Linked DNA regions of Homo sapiens: regions 1, 2 and 4 are each linked to region 3. Evidence: fine-mapped expression QTL. A gene starts in region 3. Each other region holds a variant in brackets. All regions are shown on one strand. Distances are between the middles of the regions. Region 1 overlaps MAK (male germ cell associated kinase). Region 2 has its middle 10 kb from the start of TMEM14B-DT. Region 3 holds the start of MAK (male germ cell associated kinase). Region 4 overlaps TMEM14B (transmembrane protein 14B).

The links. PIP is the estimated chance that this variant, and not a neighbour inherited with it, causes the effect.
Region 1: its variant is the best candidate, but not a certain one, in a credible set for the expression of MAK in monocytes after LPS (Fairfax 2014, PIP 0.84).
Region 2: its variant is the best candidate, but not a certain one, in a credible set for the expression of MAK in whole blood (INTERVAL, PIP 0.74).
Region 4: its variant is the best candidate, but not a certain one, in a credible set for the expression of MAK in whole blood (INTERVAL, PIP 0.84).

The regions. Positions count from the first base shown.
Region 1 is chr6:10,763,383-10,768,533 of GRCh38, reverse strand. MAK (male germ cell associated kinase) reads left to right here. Exons shown (of 15, transcript NM_001242957.3): 15 at 3,928-5,151. The coding sequence ends at 4,082. Among named protein-coding and RNA genes, the nearest start is that of TMEM14B, 18 kb to the right of the region's middle. The variant T/A (reference allele first, on the strand shown) is at 2,542.
Region 2 is chr6:10,734,796-10,739,946 of GRCh38, reverse strand. No RefSeq gene overlaps it. Among named protein-coding and RNA genes, the nearest start is that of TMEM14B-DT, 10 kb to the left of the region's middle. The variant C/T (reference allele first, on the strand shown) is at 1,994.
Region 3 is chr6:10,835,696-10,840,846 of GRCh38, reverse strand. It overlaps MAK (male germ cell associated kinase), which reads left to right and starts at 2,308. Exons shown (of 15, transcript NM_001242957.3): 1 at 2,308-2,344. RefSeq lists enhancers at 1,626-1,785, 1,836-1,895 and a silencer at 2,116-2,245.
Region 4 is chr6:10,750,302-10,755,422 of GRCh38, reverse strand. It overlaps TMEM14B (transmembrane protein 14B), which reads right to left. Exons shown (of 6, transcript NM_030969.5): 4 at 4,189-4,290; 5 at 191-281. It also overlaps the pseudogene RNA5SP203. Among named protein-coding and RNA genes, the nearest start is that of TMEM14B, 5.1 kb to the right of the region's middle. The variant C/G (reference allele first, on the strand shown) is at 2,618.

The DNA.
Region 1 (5,151 bases), 72 kb after region 3:
TCTCAGCTCACTGCAACCTCCACCTCCCGGGTTCAAACGATTCTCCTGCCTCAGCCTCCCAAGCAGCTGGGATTACAGGCATGCACCACCATGCCCAGCTAATTTTTTTTGTATTTTTAGTAGAGACGCAGTTTCACTGTGTTGGTCAGGCTGGTCTTGAACTCGTGACCTCAAATGATTCACCTGCCTCAGCCTCCCACAAGTGCTGGGATTACAGGCATGAACCACTGCACCCGGCCACATTTTATATTTTTAATATAAAGGCAGAAAATCATAATGTTTCAAATTATTTTGTTACCTAGGTATCTACTCTTATAAATCAAGAGTGGGTCTTTTAAAAAATATTTTTGTAAGATATTGAAGGCCTTTATATATTAATTATTCTATCCAATTAGCATGCATATTCCTGTTTTCATTTTTTTTAAGTAAATGCTTTTTCTTAACTTTTTATTTCTTTACTCTGCTTATCAGATTTTTCTACAGATGGTGATAGGAGGAAAGGTAAAAAATGAAGTAAATATTAATCACTCTCAAGTGGTCAATGCAAATCCTTAGAAAAAACACTGTTCTGTAAGAGATGTGTCTTCCAGTCATGCCAGTTGGGTGACAGTTTCCCACAAGAAAATAAAACCAGGTCATTACCATATTTACTCAACTATTTCCCCCTTCTTGCATAGTCTCGTCTTTGCTCTTCTTTCTCCCCTTCAAGATTTTTGTTTTTGTTTTTTTTTTTTTTTTTTTTTGAGACAAAGTCTCGCTCTGTCACCAGCCTGGAGTGCAGTGGCGTGATCTCAGCTCCCTGCTGCAACCTCTGCCACCCGGGTTCAAGCGATTCTCCTGCCTCAGCCTCCGGAGTAGCTGGGACTACAGGTGCGTGCCACCACGCCCAGCTAATTTATGTATTTTTAGTAGAGATGGGGCAGGATGATCTCGATCTCTTGACCTCGTGATCTGCCTGCCTCGACCTCTCAAAGTGCTGGGATTACAGGCATGAGCCACCGCACCTGGCCTCTACCCTTTAAGTTTTGAGAAGGAAAATCAATGTCTTCCCTCCCATGTAATCTCTCCTTCCCCTAATACTTCCTTATCCCCTGCCTTGAAACTAACAAGGACTTCGAGGAGTGACTTCTGTTCTACACAGCACCCTTTAGGATCACTTTAGAAGTGCAGGATCCTGTTTTAAGCACTCTGTGTACATTAACTCATTAATCCTCCCAGGGCTGTATTCCAGGAGGTACTATTATGATCCGCATCTCACACAAGTTTTATATGTTGCTAAAAGTTGTATCACAGTGGCATCAATTAAATCCATAACTAGAGGCAAACTTCTTTCCTTTAGCATAGATTTTCTACAAGAAGTTAAATGTCCTTGATAGGACAGATGCAGTTTTTAAACACAGAGCAAGCATTGCAAGGCTCACTATCCCTCCCGCTCTTGCAGGGCAGTGAGGTGTGGGGTGGTCCCACTAAGGCACAAAAGCACTTCTTGCCCTGCCACGAGATCTGGGCTCCTCTCAGCTGTTAGGTTCTTCACCAAAGGTACTTGAGTCCTGAAATTCTAGTATATCTAGGAAAGGAATCCTAAATCTCAACACTACCCCCTTCTTAGCAAAATGATTCCCTCTTGAAAAAGTTTTACAAAATATTGTCCTGGACACAATTTCATTTAAAACCATTTAGGACTTAGGTGATATCATGACCTGGAAAAAGGCTTCTCTTTTTGTTACTCCCCAAAGCTCTCACTTCTTGCCCTCAGAGCCACACCCATTAGCCTAATGCCACGTTCCCTTTTCCCTCCCTGAATAAGCGGGGCTTATTGCCTCTCTCCCCGCTCTCTACTCCCCTCCCACGCTGTCTCTTCTACCCCTGCTACCAGTTTGACCTGTGGCCCACATGGGTGAGCTCACTAATTTAGCAGACAGATGCTCGTTTCTATTCCAATGGCTATAACTAAAGGGCTCTTTCTGGAAAACATGGTGCCCTGACTGGCCCTTGTAGACACATTGTCCCTGACTTTGTTAGATAGCTTTTTAGTGGCTTTGACTTTGAGAATTTTAAGCCCAGTAAAAAGAGTGGAATGAAAGGACCTGTCAAACCATGGAGTGGGGAGCTCTTGGCCTCCCTGCCTCCACCAAACTACACGGCAGCCAGGCGGCTGTCTTACCCAGAGTGTCCACACTTAATACCTTGTTCACCCATGCTGAAGTTAGTAGCTTGTCAGGACCACATGCTCACAGAATTCCCTCCTCACTCCCAGTTATACAGTGAAAATTTAAGAAAAACTGTGCAAACCATGCCAGTAAATATGGGATAGCTAGGGCTAGGGGTACAAAATGGTCAGATTCATTTCAGTATTAACACTTAGAGTTTAATCCAAGAATGGCAGCTACTACACAGTGTGAAGAGATATTTAAACCCCAGATGGAAAAAGCAGACATCCCTCCTCAGATACAATACCTGTGATACCTTAGCTCTCAATTCGAGGTGAGGAAAGCGTGAAGGAGGGACTGAAGAAGGCATCAAAAGTTGTCTGTAAAATGA[T/A]CTCCTGCTTTGTCCTTTGAAATGTTGAAGCAGTTTTAGCTCATAAATTGTTCAGATAACAAATGTTCAAGAAATTTTAAATTTTTCACAAATTTTTAAACAGTCAGATATATGAATGAAACAACCTTGTGGTTAAAAGTTTAGGATCCTACCATTTAAGGGAATTGTGTTCCCACCCATGATTTTCCCAATGAGAAATGAAGTATGGGCCGGGTGCGATGGCTCACACCTGTAATCCTAGCACTTTGGGAGGCTGAGGTGGGTGGATCATTGGCAAGGCTGAGGTGGGTGGATCACCTTAGGTCAGGAGTTCCAGACCAGCCTGGCCAACATGGCAAAACCCCATCTCTACTAAAAATACAAAAACTAGCTGGGCGTGGTGGTGCGCCCCTGTAATCCCAGCTGCTCAGAAGGCTGAGGCAAGAGAATCACTTGAACCCGGGAGGTGGAGGTTGCAGTGAGCCGAGATCGCACCATTGCACTCCAGCCTGGGCAACAAGGGCGAAACTCTGCCTCATTAAAAAAAAAAAAAAAAAAAAAAAAAAAAAAAAATCTTCATTCTAAAACCCACATTTTAATGTTTAAAAAGAAATCTATTATAGGACCCCATGTGTGTTCTTCCATGAAGCCACAGTTTTATAGATTCACAATTCCAAATACATTTTTCTGTAGTGATATTGTGTCAATATTATTTAGATGTAACCACAGTGTGATATTACAAAGTCACCAACACTGTGGGTGTTGCCCATTGAATTTGAGCCAATAAATTTTCTTGGTCTTCTTACCTGGCGTTGCCTATCTAAATGTAAAATATTAAAAATAGCAGCAGTGTCAGCACTATAAACCAGGAATAATATTGGCTCTTCAGCTACTGAAAATTCTTTTTTTTTTTTTTTGAGATGGAGTTTCACTCTTGTCGCCCAGGCTGGTGTGCAATGGTATGATCTCGGCTCACTGCAACCACTGCCTCCCGGGTTCAAGTGATTCTCTTGCCTCAGCCTCCTGAGTAGCTGGGATTACAGTCACCCGCCACCACGCTCAGCTGATTTTTTTTGTATTTTTAGTAGAGACAGGGTTTCACCATGTTGGCCAGGCTGGTCTCGAACTCCTGACCTCAGGTGATCCACTTGCTTCAGCCTCCCAAAGTGCTAGGACTACAGGCAGGAGCCACTGCGCCCGGCCAGCTACTGGAAATTCTAATGGATGTCAACATAATACTACACTAGAATTTTTGGTTTTAACATTTAAAAAGCCTCAGAGAGTACTGAGTTAATCTTTTAAACATAAATTCAGATTTTCCCCATCAAATGAGAGGATGAATTTCTTTATTTTGAGTTTGATAAGCAAATGAGTAAAACCCTGTTTTCCAAATCTGATTTCTTTCAGAATATACCTGGAACACAAAAACTGGTCGGGGGCAGTTTTCAGGACGTACTTATAATCCTACAGCAAAAAACCTAAATATTGTGAACCGTGCACAGCCCATTCCCTCAGTGCATGGGAGGACAGACTGGGTGGCCAAGTATGGAGGCCACCGGTAGGAGTCTATGGTGTGAAACCCTACAGCATTGCTCCGTAGAGTACGTGCAAGTTCCTTGACCCTGGGAAATGTCTACAAATGTCTATTTCTACTGAGTTCTGGAAGAAATATGCAAAAGTGGGTACTTGGAAGGGCAAAAATCATCCCCTATTTTACTTATTTCCAAGAAATGCATTTTCTTAGCATCATTGCCCACAGTGTTGATATATGGGTAGGATGTTACAAAGTATTGAATAAACTATTTGCCAAAGTATGAAGTATTTGATCTACAATTTAATAAATAGTAAATCCAATAAGAACCCTTAAAAAAAAACAACTTCCAGAAAATGTTTAGAGTGTTTTAGTTTTCATTTGTTGTATGTGCCCAAATGGTTTAGTAGTTCTTCACTTTGCTGTGGTTGGCTTAAGAGGTTTGTCTTTTGTTTTTGTACAGCAGTTGGGCCAACCTTTGCTGGCTGTCAGCTGTGGTTCTTATTTGACTAAGGCTCTGCGCTGCCATTTTGTCAATGACAGAAAGATTGCAATTATTTGTTTTTCTACTTTGAAGCTATGGGAGCGATGGTAATTTCAATCTTGAGCAGGATATCTTTTTTTTTTTTTTTGAGGCGATGTTTCACTCTTGTGTCCAGGCTGGAGTGCAGTGGCACTATCTTGGCTTACTGCAACCTCCACCTCCTGGGTTCAAGTGATTCTCCTGCCTCAGCCTCCCGAGTAGCTGGGATTAGAGGCGTGTGCCACCATGCCTGGCTAATTTTTGTAGTATTAGTAGAGACAGGGTTTCACCATGTTGGTCAGGCTCAGGCTGGTCTCAAACTCCTGACCTCAGGTGATCCACCTGCCTCGGCCTCCCAAAGTGCAGGGCTTACAGGTGTGAGCCACAGTGCCCAGCTTTTTTTTTTTTTTTTTAGAAATAAATTTATCTTTAACATAGAGAATATCAAAGTTATGCCACTTGATTTTAGTGGACGGCTTGTGTTTTGATCTTGACCAGTACAGTTCCCATGAATTCAAGGTGACAATCAAGCCCAATGGCTTGATGACTTCAATAGTAACCAAGTCAAGGTTCTCTT
Region 2 (5,151 bases), 100 kb after region 3:
AGTTAAAACAAAAGGTTTAAATAAGAGCCAGAGGCCGGAGCTCACGCCTGTAATCCCAGCACTTTGGGACGGCGAGGCAGGCGGATCACTTGAGGTCGGTTCGAAACGAGCCTGGTAAACATGGTGAAACCTCGTCTTTACTAAAAATACAAAAATTAGGCGTGGTGGTGTGCGCCTGTAATTCCGGTTACTCGGGAGGCTGAGGCACGAAAATCGCTTGAACCCAGGAGGCGGAGGTTGCAGTGTGCCGAGATCACACCGCTGCACTCCAAACTGGGAGACAAATAGAGACTCTTTTTATTTTTATTTTTATTTTTTATTTTTGAGACGGAGTCTCGCTCTGTCGCCCAGGCTGGAGTGCAGTGGCACGATCTTGGCTCACTGCAAGCTCCGCCTCCCAGGTTCACGCCATTCTCTCGCCTCAGCCTCTGGAGTAGCTGGGACTACAGGCGCCCGCCACCACGCCTGGCTAATTTTTTGTATTTTTAGTAGAGACGGGGTTTCACTGTGTTAGCCAGGATGGTCTTGATCTCCTGATCTCGTGATCTGCTTGCCTCAGCCTCACAAAGTGCTGGGATTACAGGCGTGAGCCACCGCGCCCGGCCGAGACTCTGTCTTAAAAAATAAATAAGAGCCAGTGTCTCATAACATAACACAAATGTGTCCAGAATTCAATAGAAATCACTCAATATATAGTCATGTGCCACATTAACTATGTTTTTGGTCAATGAGAGACCACGTTTATGATGCGAATACTGTAAGATTATAAAACCATATTTTTACTATCCATTTTCTGTGCTTAATTATGTTTAGATATTCAAATACTTACCATTGGCCGGGCGCGGTGGCTCATGCCTGTAATCCCAGCACTTTGGGAGGCTGAGGTGGGCAGATTACCTGAGGTCAGGAGCTCAAGACCAGCCTGGCCAACATGGTGAAACCCCGTCTCTACTAAATATACAAAAATTAGCCAGGCATGGTGGCAGGTGCCTGTAATCTCAGCTACTTGGGAGGCTGAGGCACGAGAATCACTTGAACCTGAGAGATGGAGGTTGCAGTGAGCCGAGATCATGCCATTGCACCCCAGTCTGGGCAACAGAGCAAGACTCTGACTCAAAACAAACAAACAAACAAACAAAAAAAACACCCAGTAGATTTGATCAATGTATTCAGCAAAGACTTACTAAATTCCCTACTGTGTTCTAAGTATATATGGTAGTAACAAAAGTGTTGTTTTTCCTGCCTTTATACAACATTTATTCTAGAGGCAGATATTCAATAAACACACAAAAACATGTATGTTTGCAAATTGTGACGAGTGCTATTAAGAAAAAGAACAGGATGTTATAAGAGCTAAAAGAGAAATGTAAGTGTAGTCAGGGACCATTGAGTAGTTTTAAGTCTAGAAGTCTATACTTGAGCTATGCCTCTGCCTGCTGGGTAAAGAATGACTTATAGGGCCATAGCATGAAAAGAAGTATTCCTTGCAGAAGATTATTTAAATAACCAGGTAAAAGATAGAAAGGGTTGGACTTGGACATTAGCAATATTATGGGAGAGAATGGATTATGGCTATTGATAGAAAGCTATTCGTTTTCAGTGTTGATCTTGTTTCTTGCTGCTTTAAAGATCTCTGTTAGTTCCAATCGGTTTTTAGTTGCTTCTCGTGGATTTTCCAGATAGATAATTATCAGCTGTTAAAAATGTTTAAGTTATTTTCTACTATTAATTTATACCTCTCAAATTATCTTTTTTATTGCTTTGTCTAATTTCTCTAGAACTATGTTGAATGTTGCCAGTGATAGTAAACATCCTATTATTTCTAACTTTAACATAAAGCCATAGAATCAGATAAAAAGTAGCTCATAAAAACCGAAAGCAAGTAATATGCTTGAGTGAGGTGACAGAAGCAGCAATATTAACGTCAGGAATTCATTTTGTTCAGACTGATATCTAGTTAGAAAATACATGAAAAAGTACCCATTCATAATAA[C/T]AAAACTATAAAATACTATAAAATACAAAAAATTCAAAATACCACAAAACTATAAAATAATCCACGATCTTACTAAAAGTGTAAAGTACTATGTGAATAAAGCTCTAAAATATTGTTTTAGGACATTTTTTAAAAAACCTGAACTTGCCGGGTGTGGTGGCTCATGCCTGTAATCCATTTGCCAGCTGAGGTGGGTAGATCACCTGAGGTCAGGAGTTCAAGACCAGCCTGGCCAACATGGCGAAATGCTGCCTCTACTAAAAACACAAAAATTAGTCAGGTGTGGTGGCAGGCTCCTGTAATCCCAGCTATTTGGGAGGCTGAGGCAGGACAATTGCTTGAACCTGGGAGGCAGAAGTTGCAGTGAGCTGAGATCATGCCACTGCACTCTAGCCTGGGCGACAGAGCGAGACACTGTCTCAAAAAAAAAAAAAAAAGTCTGGGTGCAGTGGCTCACACCTGTAATCGCAGCACTTTGGGAGGCTGAGGCAGGTGGATCACCTGAGGTTGGGAGTTTAAGACCAGCCTGGCCAACATGGTGAAACCCCGTCTCTACTAAAAATACAAAAGTTAGCTAGCTGTGGTGGTGCACGCCTGTAATCCCAGCTACTTGGGAGGCTGAGGGAGGAGAATCACTTGAACCCAGGAGGCGGAGGTTGCAGTGAGCCAAGATCACGCCACTGCACTCCAGCCTGGGCAACAGACAAAGACTCTGTCTCAAAACAAACAAACAAACAAACAAAACACCTGAATTAAATGAAGGAACATACAATGTTCCTGGATAAGAGGAAATATTTTAAAGCTTTCAATCTCCTTCATTATCTATCAATGTGTCATAATAAAATCCCAAGTAAAATTTAAAAATTAAAAGGCTAATTCTAACAAAAAAGGAAAAAAAATAAAAAAACAAACAAGCAGAAAGGCTAATTCCAGATTTAGCTTGTAAAGTTACTGTGTCAGGAAAAATCTGAAAAGCAACGACAGACTTGTCCGACTAAATATCAGCATATGGTACAAAGCTACAGTAATTAATACAATTTGGCACTGGGACAGAAAATAAAGAAATCCCTGGAAGAGGCTAGAAAACCCAGAATCAATTCCAAATACAGAAATTCAGCACATGGTAAAAGTGGCATTCCAAAGCAATGAGGAATTAACATTTTTCAATAAATAATATTAAGGTAATGGCTATATTTTGGAGAAAATAATCAGATCCCTAATTTGCACCATCACACACAAAAATAAATTCTAAAGTAGCATTAAAAATAGAAGTGCTCTCACCACACAAGAAATGGTAATTTGGTAATATGACAGCTTAGCTTGATTGAATCTTTCTATAATACATACAGAGATTAAAACATCACATCACATTGTACCCCATAATATGGACAATTATTTGTTAATTAATAAATTTTAAAAATAGAAACCTAAAAGATAAAACTATAAAAGCATTGGAAGAAAATAAGATAATTTCAGGCCAGGTATGGTGGCTCACGCCTGTAATCCCATCGCTTTGGGAGGCCGAGGCGAGTGGACCACTTGAAGTCAAGAGTTCAAGACAAGCCTGGCCAACATGGTGAAACCCCCGTCTTTATTAAAAATACAAAATTAACCAGGCATGGTGGCATGCGCCTGTAATCCCAGCTACTTGGGAGGCTGAAGCAGGCGAATCCCTTGAACCCAGGACACAGAGGTTGCAGTGAGCTGAGATCGTGCCACTGCACTCCAGCCTGGGCAATGGAGCAAGACTCCAACTCAGAAAAAATTGAATAAATAAACTATAAACTAAGTTCTTCCCACAGTTAGTTCAGCCCACACCAGAATGAACAAGGACAGCTTGGACGGTAGAAGCAAGATGGCGTTGGTTAGGTCAGATCTCTTTCACTGTCTCAGTTATAATTTTGCAATGCTGGCCAGGCGGGGTGGCTCGCACCTGTAATCTCAGCACTTTGGGAGGCCGAGGGGGGCGGATCACAAGGTCAGGAGATCGAGACCATCCTGGCTAACACGGTGAAACCCCATCTCTACTAAAAATACAAAAAATTAGCCAGGCGTGGTGACACGTGCCTGTAGTCCCAGCTACACAGGAGGCTGAGGCAGAAGAATTGCTTGAACCTGGGAGGCGGAGGTTGCAGTGAGCCGAGATGGCACCACTGCACTCCTGCCTGGGCATCAGAGCAAGACTCCGTCTCAAAAAAAAAAAAAAATTGCAATAGTGGTTTCAATCTGAAAGCCATAAAGAAAATATAATAAATTTGATTTCATAAATGTTTACTTTCTGTACAACGGCAAAAAAAACACATAAACAAAATCGAGACACAAATAACAAGTGAGAGGAAAATATTTTCAATACATATGATAGGGAACACATTTTTATACTACATAGAAAGTCTCAGACTATCCAATGTTTTCAATTAAAAAACAAAAAAACCAAAAACATGGACAAAAGGGATGAAAGACTGCTCACAGAAAAAATATAACTGGTCAATAAATGTATGAAAGATGTAATAATTCATAACTAAATCACTGAAACCATTAGATAACATTTTTTGGGTAGATCGGGGGTGGCATGACTATGGTCAGTGAGCTAATTCTAGTCCATTGCCTGTTTTTGTGCAGACAGCAAGCTAAGAACGGTTTTGCATTTTTAAATGGTTGAAGAAAATAAAAATAAGATTACTATTTTGTAATATGTAGAAATCATATGAAATCCAGATTTCAAGGCCCATAAGTACAGTTTTATTGGAACAGTCACCCTTGCTTATTTACTTATTGGCTATGGCTGCTTTCATCCTACAAAGGCAGAGATGAGCAGCTGGGACAAAGATGGCCTGCGAAGCCTAAAATATTCATATCTGGCCCTTTACAGAAAAAGTTTGCAGACTCCTAGCTTCATGTGTCAAAGATTTTTAAAAAGTCCAATTCCACAAAGTTAGCCACCACTGGAAGTAGGGTAAATTGGTGCATTTTCTTCTGAGGGCAATCACAACTTGAACTGCTGAGATGCTCTGACACAGCGTTTAGGAATGTAACCTACAGATTCCTTTGCACATGTTCACGGGGATTTCCAAAGATATTCCTTGGTAAACCATCTGTTTTTTTTTTTTTTTTTTGACACGGAGTCTCACTCTGTCTCCCAGGCTGGAGTGCAGTGCGAT
Region 3 (5,151 bases):
CCTCCTCTATTATTTTCCAACTTGGTCATGGATACCACTATCCACCAGTCATCTAAGCCTGATGGTCCTGCCGATTTTAACTCCTAAACATCCCTTGAATTCTGTCTTTCTCTGTCCTATTTCCATCATCACTGCTAGAGTTGGATCCTTATCATTTCTTCCCAGTCAGTTGGGAGAAAGACTCCCAATCTTTCTCTTGCCTCCAGACTTGCAGCTCAAATCCACCCTACCCACTGCTCCTCTTGGGATCTTTCTGAAATGCAAATGTGAACATGTCACTCTTCTGTGGGAGATTCTTCACTGGTCTTCCTCATTGACACATGTTAAAGCTTAGGCTTCATAACTGGGTATATAAAGCTGCTATGACCTATCTAACTTATGCTTTTTACTTTGCCTGCCTACTTCACTTATTTATTGGAGAGCAATGAATCTTTTATTTATTATTATTATTATTGAGACGGAGTTTTGCTTTTGCTGCCCAGGCTGGAGTGCAATGGTGTGATCTCAGCTCACTGCAACCTCCGCCTCCTGGGTTCAAGCTATTCTCCTACCTCAGCCTCCCAAGTAGCTGGGATTACAGGCATGCGCCACCACGCCTGGCTAATTTTTTGTAGTTTTAGCATTTTAGTAGAGATGGGGTTTCTCCAGGTTGGTCAGACTGGTCTCAAACTCCCGACCTCAGGTGATCCGCCCACCTCGGCCTCCCAAAGTGCTGGGATTACAGGCATGAGCCACCGCGCCTGGCCATTTATTATTATTATTATTTTGAGACAGAGTCTTGCTCAGTCACCCAGGCTGGAGTGCAGTGGCACGTTCTCCGCTCACTGCAACCTCTGCCTCCTGGGTTCAAGTGATTCTCCTGCCTCAGCCTCCCGAGTAGCTGGGATTACAGGCATGTGCCACCACACCCAGATATTTTTTGTATTTTTAGTAGAGATGGGGTTTCACCATGTTGGCCAGGCTGGTCTTGAACTCCTGACCTCAGGTGAGCCACTCACCTGGGCCTCCCAAAGTGCTGGGATTACAGGCATGAGCCACTGAGCCCCGTCTGTTTTTAAATGTTTATTTCAATAGCTCTTGGGGTACAAGTGGTTTTTTGTTACATAGATGAATTATATAGTGGTGAATTCTGAGATTTTAGTGCACCCATCATCTGAGTAGTGTATATGGTACCTAGTGCATAGTTTTTTTTATCCCTAGGCTCTCTCCCATCCTCCCCTTTCTGAGTCTCCAAAGTCCATTATTTCACTGTGTATGCCTTTGCATACTCATAGCTTGGCTTTTGCTTATAAGTGAGAACATACAGTTTTTGGTTTTCCACGCCTGTATTACTTTGCGTAGAATAAGGACCTCCCACTCTTCCAAGTTGTTGCAAAAGACATTATTTCATTCTTTTTTTGTGACTGAGTAGCAGCCTATGGTGTATATATACCACATTTTCTTTATCCACTCATTAGTCAATGGGCACTTAGATTGGTTCCACATCTTTGCAATTGTGAATTGTGCTGCCATAAACATACGCGTGAAAGCCTACTTCACTTTAAGCTGTGAGGGCCACAGGCATGTCTGTCGTGTCTACCTTGGCGCTATTCTTGGTCCCAAGCCCACATCCTGACACCTAATAATTACTAACTTGCCGCACCACTGCTTCATCACTTATGTTTCTGTTTCGTAGACCCTTTTTGCCAGCCAATCTGAACTATTTGCAGTAACACAAGTGTGCCTTCCTCTCTAAATTCTAGACTAGTTACAATTTACCCATTTATTCACACATTCAGTCATTTTTCTTGGAATTACCACTATCTAACTCTGTGGCTGATACTAGGCAGGTTCTCTGAATGAATAAATGGAAACAAACTTAGAAGGGCAGCTCAAGAGGTAATACATACCCAAGGAATTGACCAATTTAAGGAACTGCATACAAGAACAGTTTTTCCCCAGGCACAAGTAAACAAGTGCAAGTATGAGGCAAACAGACTTCCTTCTCTTGCTCTGCCCGGTCTGGGAACCATATTTTAATTAATCAAGACTTTGTAGAATGAATCGGAACAAAACCAAAACAAAATAAAGGGCAAACAAACCAACTTCTGACAAAGACCTGACTGAAAAGGTAATCAACTCCCCTAAACCCCAAGTCTAAATGGCACACTTGCTGCAGCTCAGCCGACAGTCCCCCGGCTCCATGAAGCCCCGCCCCGGGGAAGGCGGGGCCTGCGGGAATTGGCGGGGATTTCCCGCGAGGCCACGCCCTCTCTGGGCCGGCCGTAGGCCCGCCTGCTGCCCCCGCCGTTTCCTAGGAGATGAAACACACAAGACGCCGGAGCTTCACAAGGGAGCGAACGAGGTAAGCAGCAGGCGCGGACAGGTAATCCCCAGCGGGCTGCAGGGCCACCACCCTCTGTCCGACCCAGCCGGAGCCCGACCTGCGAGGCTGGCCGGGCATGTCCCCTCGGCGCCCTGTGCTACCAGGGCCAATCTCCGCCCGGAGACCGGTCCCTGACGCCGGTAGGGGAAGGACTGGAGGGAGGAGGGTCCCCGGAGGGGCGGAGCGGGCGGGAGTGGTCAGCCCGAGGGAAGGCGGTCGGTGTCTCCCAGACCTCTTGACCACTTTCCCGCCTCCTGGACCGCGGGGGCCGGCCTGGCGTGGGAGGATGACGGCCGGGCGTCCCTTAGCCTGAGACCCCCGCCCCTAAACTCTCCTCCGGGATCTCCCACCTCTGCTCCCCTGCTGCTTGGGCTGGCGGTGGAAACTGTTTTTAGGACAGAGAGGCAGGATTGGGTCTCAGGGAGGCAGCGGAACTGAGTTCAGAACTGTTGCAAAATCTAAAAGGAGGGAGAAAAACAGGAATTAGGTCCGACTCCAGCCCTCGCTGGTGCATCCCAAAGGACGCTCAGGTGAAAGTGGAATTCCGCACACCCCCGTCCCCCCCAACGGCGCCGGACTCCCGGCGCCCGGGGACGCCCCCTCCTTCCACCACGCGGTCCCTGGAGCCTTTTAAGAGCCCTGGTTTGCAGAGTCGGATCAGAAAGTGTGTGACGAAAACTGTCCCTTTTCTGCAAGTAATCCGTTTTAATTTAGGGACAGGTCGAGAGTGCGGTGTCGAGAGCAATAAAACTGGTTTTTAGTGGTTAGTAATCTCAATCCTACAAGGAAAGAGCTGTATGCAAATGTGGTTAGATAATCGTTTAAAAGAAACAGACATTTGTTCTAATGATAACGGAATTCTCAAAGAGGGAAGCCAAAGTTATCTGACTTTATTTATTCAGAAACACAACCCATTAAGTGAAATAATGGTGAAAACAAAAGTGACTTTCCAGCTTTTCGATCGGGCCCCGCCTCCCCGGCCCTTCAATTCCCGAGGCTTGACCGGGAGGGAGAAAGTTCCCCCAACCGCGCCACCGCCTGCTTCCACTGCAGGCACCGGGCAGGACGTTTAATCTCTTCGTCGGGGTGGACTTTTTTTGTGTATAAGCTTTGAAATAATTTGTGAATATGAGCACAGAGAACTGTGCTTTTATATTTTAAGATACAGTCTTTGTTTTCCCATTGTAATAGCTCATTTAATTTCTGTAAAACTTCGACTTGGTTAGTTTGGGATCTTTTTTTCCTGCGTTGCTTTTTAAAGAGTTTGGTGACTTTTAAAACGTTAATTACTCTTTTGTTGTGTATTAGAAGCGTTAAGCCAGCCTCGGAGTGACATAATATGTTCTAGAAAGCCACGTTGAAGACATCCAAGCCTTATCTCTTCAGTTTTTGGCAGACGCTTGTTTTACCCTTCATTTGCCCTCTTTGCTAATCTTCTTTAATCCTATCTGAATCTCTTATTAGCTGGCAAAAGCTGTTGAGAGTAAAGGCTATATTTACAACAATTGTGCACTTAGAGAAACGGTAATTATGAACTTAGATTAAAAAGTTGAAAACTAGAATGAGAGATAAATTATAAGGGTATTTATTTTTGTGTAGGTCTATAATTAAGCCTCTAAATAAGCATCTTTTTCTTTAACCCATAGGAAGGTCAATAAATGTTATAGCTTGATTGTAGAAAATTCCAAGTTTTTAACAATTCTGTTAAATTGAGGATGATAGTTATATTTACTTGGGTTTTTTGTTGCATATGTATCATATCTATATATATTCATGTACATAAGAAACTGTGTTAATATATTCCTATTTTGTAGATTAGTTTTCCATAGGTCAACAGAGAAGAATATATGTAACTTGTAGAGAAATATTATTGTGCGTGAACTGGAGAACCATGGGAAGCCTGTGTTTAAGGAACATAGACTGCTTTTTGATTAGTAATCAGTAGTTGCTATGCCACATTGATAAAAGTAGTTGCTTATGTGCTATCAGGGAGCAGGGACATGGAATAATGATTTTTTAAAAGCTTTACCTTGATGTCTATGTCTCTACATTAGACAATTGTATGTTCAGGGGATAGAAGGAACAGTTGCAATGATCAGCGTCTCACCCTGGGCAGCTGTTGATTTTGTAATTAATGTAGTTCAAAAGAAGCCTTTCCAAAGTTTTTTCTTAGGGAGCGCAGTATGTAAAGTTGTTTTACTTAAAGGTTAGGTAGGGCTTAAATGGGACAGATCCTCACAGAACCACTAATCTGACCTTTTAAAAATCTATGTCACGTCCGTAATCCTCAACACTCCACCCCTCAAACAGAAAGGAGCTGGGAAATGGTCGTGTTCCTTGCTTATTCTTCCCTCAATATAAGTACACCCTATCCTATAGCCATCATCCGTTGAAAGACAATTGGTGTTGCCGGTGTTTATTCAGAAGTTGATTGGTTAGGCTTGGAATGAAGTTGCCAAAATAGCCACTCGCAAAGAGACTGTGCACGCAGGCTTGGGTCGAAAGTCATCAGTGACTGAATGCTCTATTGTGCTGATAGTGCTGGTGCAGCTTCAGGTCACCCTCCCACCCCAGGGCGGTGGTGATGGGGGTGGCTGATGGCCTTAATAGTGGAAGAGAGAGGTGTAATTAATTCTTAATTTTTAGATTGTTGGGCCAATGAAGGTGATTTTTTTGTCACTCTTTGTGTTTCCACTTCCTGAATAACACTCGCTACCATCATTACCATGCAACCAGAGGCAGCTCCCTCTTCCATTCCCTTCTCAAGTCATATGTCCTTTTTCAGA
Region 4 (5,121 bases), 85 kb after region 3:
GGATATACTCATGTCATTTGACATTAAATCAACTATTGTTTTTGAAGCATCTCCTATTAGTGTATAAGTCAAACGTCAGTTGATGCATAGCATCAGATACTCTGAAACAAGTAAGGTTTTGAATGCATAAAGTATTCTGGGCAATAAACTGAACTCTACATGGTAAAGAAGAGTAATAGAATGAAAGTACCTGGCACCTGCAATTAAACCTACAGGCATGAATTTTCCATAGTAGTAGGATCTCATTCCCATAACACCAACAAAAGTAACAGATGTAGCGGCTGAAAAAGATACAAAGAAGGGTCAAAACTCATTAGTCTTCTACGCAGGGGAATCAGAAGTAGACCAAGCCCCACCAATCTCTCAAGGCTCACGCCTCATCCTATGCTTATTCCTCCTTCCCCAAGTAGGGGAGATTACTAGCTGCCCACATCCTATGGGTCCAAATACCAATACTGGCCAAATAGGGCCCTTCACAGCCTGGGCCCTACCTGCCCTTCCAGCCTCATCTCTTACCACTTGTCTTCTGCAAAACCCACACTTTAGCCATCAATGTGTTAGTTTTCTCCAAAATGCTGTTGTTTCTCATGCCCTGCAGATGCTATCGCCCTGCAGACGCTATTTCCTCTACCCTGCATGCAATTCCCACTGGGTATCTGTCAAAGCACCTACTACATGTCAAGCGCTGTGCTAGGAGCTGGAGAATACAAAAGTAATCGTAACTGTCTTTGCCCTTTTACAATGCTTCAGGTCTGATGGGACAAGACTTTAAACAATCACACAAAGAAAAACAAGGTACAATGTGTGCTTCAGGTATAATTGATGCTACACAAAAAAGCTCAACAGGGGGATCAACCTATTCAGGGAGATCATGCTAGGCTTTTAGCCAAGGAAGTGAAGACTGACTGAGATCTGAAATTACAGCAGGCGTTAATAAGCTGAAGGATGGGAATGCCCTTTCCAGGCAGAGGGGACAGTATATGCAGAGGCCCTGTGGTGACAGGGAGCATGGCACATTCACCCTAAAAGGGCAGCGTGGCACAGAAGTCAAGATGCAGTTTGTGAGTAAGAGGCGCCAGACCACATAGAGCCTTGAAGGCCATACTAAGGATTGGGTTTTCATCATAAGAGCAATGAGAAGCTATTAAAGGATACTAAGCAGAGGGATGCATAAAAAGAGTTGCATTATTATTATTATTTTTTGAGACAGAGTCTCACTCTGCAACACACGCTGGAGTGCAGTGGCATGATCTCAGCTCACTACAACCTCTACCTCCCAGGTTCAAGCAATGCTGAAGCCTTTTTTAATTTTAGTGGAGACCGGGTTTCACCATGTTGCCCAGGGTGGTCTCCAACTCCTGAGCTCGGCAATCCGCCTGCCTTGGCCTCCCAAAGTGCTAGGACTACAGGCAGGAGCCACCGCAACCGGCCCAGAGTTGCATTTTGAAAGCGTAATTCTAGCTATACTATAGAGAACAAACTTCAGGGAAACTAGAGGGTACATGGGGATACCAGCTAAGGAACGTCCTTGGGAATGCAGGTAAGAAAGAGGGGATAACTGGGACTAGGACGATGGCTGTGCAGATGAAAAAGAGGACAACTCAGGATAAGGGCTAGAGGTAGTGTCGACAAGACCTGCTGATGAATTAGTCAGAAAGGGGGTGGTAGAAAGGAAAGAGAGCAATCAAGAACCGAATGGATGGAGAACAGAAGACAGGGGGAGTGTGTGGCCATGAGGTTAGGTCCGGGCAGATTCCTGGAGACATCTGAAGGAAAGTGGACAGATGAATACATGAGAGTCCAGCCTGGAGGAGAGAGAAATTTGTGTCATTTGTGTATCGGTGGAAATTAAAGGCATAGGCTTCAATGAAACTGTCAAGTGAGTAGACAAGAAGAGCCTGAAGAACTTCAATATCTAGTGGCCAAAAAGGAAAATAGGTTGCCAAAAGAGAATGAGAGGATAAAAAGGGAAACCAGGAGAATGGAAAATGATTGGTCAACCGTGCTGAGAACTGCTAAATGGCCAAGTAAAATGAGGACTGAAAAATGTACATTGGATTTTGTACAAACACAGGTCACTGGCAGCCTCAGGGAGAGCTATTCCACAAACACAGGGACAGAAACAGAGACTGAAATGGGCTGATCATGTGTGATGGGAGAGGAGGCATAAATGATCTTTATTTTTTGAAACGGAGTTTCGCTCTTGTTGCCCAGGCTGGAGTGCAGTGGCGTCATCTCGGCTCACCGCGACCTCCACTTCCCGGGTTCAAGCGATTCTCCTGCCTCAACCTCCTGAGTGGCTGGGATTACAGGTGACAGCCACCAAGCCCGGCTAATTTTGTATTTTTAGTAGAGATGGGGCTTTCTCCAAGTTGGTCAGACTGGTCTCCAACTCCCGACCTCAGGTGAGCCGCCTGCCTCGGTCTCCCAAAGTGCTGGGATTATACGAGTGAGCCACCGCGCCCAGCTGCATAAATGATCTTTAAGAAGTTTGTGGTCTACCGCCATACCACCCTGAATGTGCTAGATCTTGTCTGATCCCAGAAGCAAAGCAGGGTCGGTCCGGTCCTGCATGGTACTTGGATGGGAGACTACCACCCCACCTTCGGGGAAACAC[C/G]AGGTGCTGTAGGCTTTTGGCCTCCCACTCCCTCCCTCTTTCCCTCTTGGCTGGGCGTGCTGCCTCATGGCTGTAATCCCAGCACTTCGGGAGTCCAAGGTGGGCAGATCACCTGAGGTCAGGCGTTCCAAACCAGCCCAGACAACATGGCAAAAACCCTGCACCTGCTAAAAATGCAAACGTTAGCCTGACATGGTGGGAGACACCTGTAATCCCAACTACCTAGAAGGCTGAGGCAGGAGAACCACTTGAATCCAAGAGGCGGAGGTTGCAGTGAGCCAAGACCGCGCCACTGCACTCTAGCCTGGGCAACACAGTGAGACTCCGTCTCAAAAAAAAAAAAAAAAAAAAAAGGTAGTTTATGAAGGGGAAGGAGACAAGCACATCTGAATATCAATGCGGGGATCCACCTAAAAGGAGGAATACAAATACAAGACAGGATCCTGGCCAGTGTAAAGGTCTGGAGACGGTCAGGGAGAAGACACCCAAAGCCCAGAGGAAGACACTGGTGTTGGAAAGGAGGGAAACAGGACGAGGGGAGGCTTGGAGATTAAAGGCTCCAGGAGTCCCCACCTGATGGCTGCTGTTTTTTCTCTACAATAGGTGTGAGGTCATTTGCTGAGTGGAGTAGGATCAGAGAAAGGGAAAATGCAGGCTCAAGTCATTCTGGAGCATGAGGGAGGGAGCTGTTAGGCAGAGCTGGGACCTGGACACACCTCCTTCCCCAGCACACCCCATTAGCCATCACGGACCTCCCTTCCCCACCCCAGCTGATATGTACAGATCACACGGCTTCTCCCTCCCACATGGCACTCATTCTCACACGGGGTTTGTAGAGACCGCAAGGAACCCACACTCATAGCAGTGTCTGACACATGGGTGGAGCTCCACAGAAATGTACTGAAAACCACTCTGATGAGGACTCTTATGTCCTCCACACCACTCACTGTCCTCACTGTCCGTGCTGCTCACAGGGTACCTTTCCAGTCCTGCTTCTATGCTCATGTCTTACTTCCCCAGTGAAGTCAGTTGAAAGCTCCTTGAAAGCATGGTCTACGTCTTATATATTTAGTTAGCTGACTGCTAAAGAGGTGATTTTCAAATGTGAAAAACGTAACGCAGCTGCAAACCTAACCCAGATACGTGATATTTTAGTGATACTGAGGCCAATGGTCTTCAGCGGAAAACCTCAACGGTTGACACATATTTGTCTTATACAAGTTTAATGCTGACTTTACTGGGTAAATATGGGTAATACAAGTTTGATACTAATTCTACTGGGTAAACACTGAAAATAAGGCCCACAGAGGATGGATGACTTTCTGAGAGTCACACAATTCACAAGGTATGGAAATCTTTCCATATTATCTACATAAACAATAAACAGGAACCAGGACAATTCCCACCACCCTTCTCCTATTTTAAAACTTTGAGGACTTGGACTTGGAGAAGCAGTGAAACTGTCGTAAATTAAGTGGGAAGAACTCGCTCCATCCCACCAAACCAGGGTCTTTTGGAAAAGAATATTCCAGATACATGATTGCCCTAAGGAGACGCTGAAGCAGACATACCTAGGAAACCCCAAACGTTCCTTGGATCCTGATACAGCTGGTAAGCACCCAGGCCGGCTAGACTGCCGAAGAGCAGCCCTGCAGCCAGGGACGGCACGCTGCCTAGAAGGAAGCAAACGCAGCTTGCATTGTAATGTCAGGCACTTATTTCACTAACGGAATCCACCAGACCTCCTGCCCTACAAAGGACAGCACAAAGAACTCTCAACACAGCTCACAGCCAAGGTGGACTCAAGCAGGAAGGCGTTAAGGAGAGTGTGCTATCTTCTCAGAGAAGTCAGGGTCTTCCCACCCCATTTTTCTCTCCTCTAATAGGCAGGGCACTTCCATCTAAGGAAAGGAAAGAAGGCCATCTTCCCTCCTTAGACAGAACTATGACTAGGCCTTCTTTTGTAATGCCTAACCTTGTTTTTACTAACCCTGTTTTTAGACTCTCCCTTTCCTTTAATCACCTAGCCTTGTTTCCACCTGAATTGACTCTTCCTTAGCTAAGAGAGCCAGACAGACTCCATCTTGGCTCTTTCACTGGCAGCCCCGTCCTCAAGGACTTAACTTGTGCAAGCTGACTCCCAGCACATCCAAGAATGCAATTAACTGATAAGATACTGTGGCGAGCTATATCCGCAGTTCCCAGGAATTCGTCCGATTGATAATGCCCAAAGCCCCGCGTCCATCACCTTGTAATAGTCTTAAAGCCCCTGCACCTGGAACTGTTTACTTTCCTGTAACCATTTATCCTTTTAACTTTTTTGCCTACTTTACTTCAGTAAAATTGTTTTAACTAGACCCCCCCCCCACCCCATTCTAAACCAAAGTATAAAAGAAAATCTAGCCCCTTCTTCAAGGCCGAGAGAACTTTGAGTGTTAGCCGTCTTTTAGGCCCCAGCTAAATAAACAGACTCTTAATTCGTCTCAAAGTGTGGCGTTTTCTCT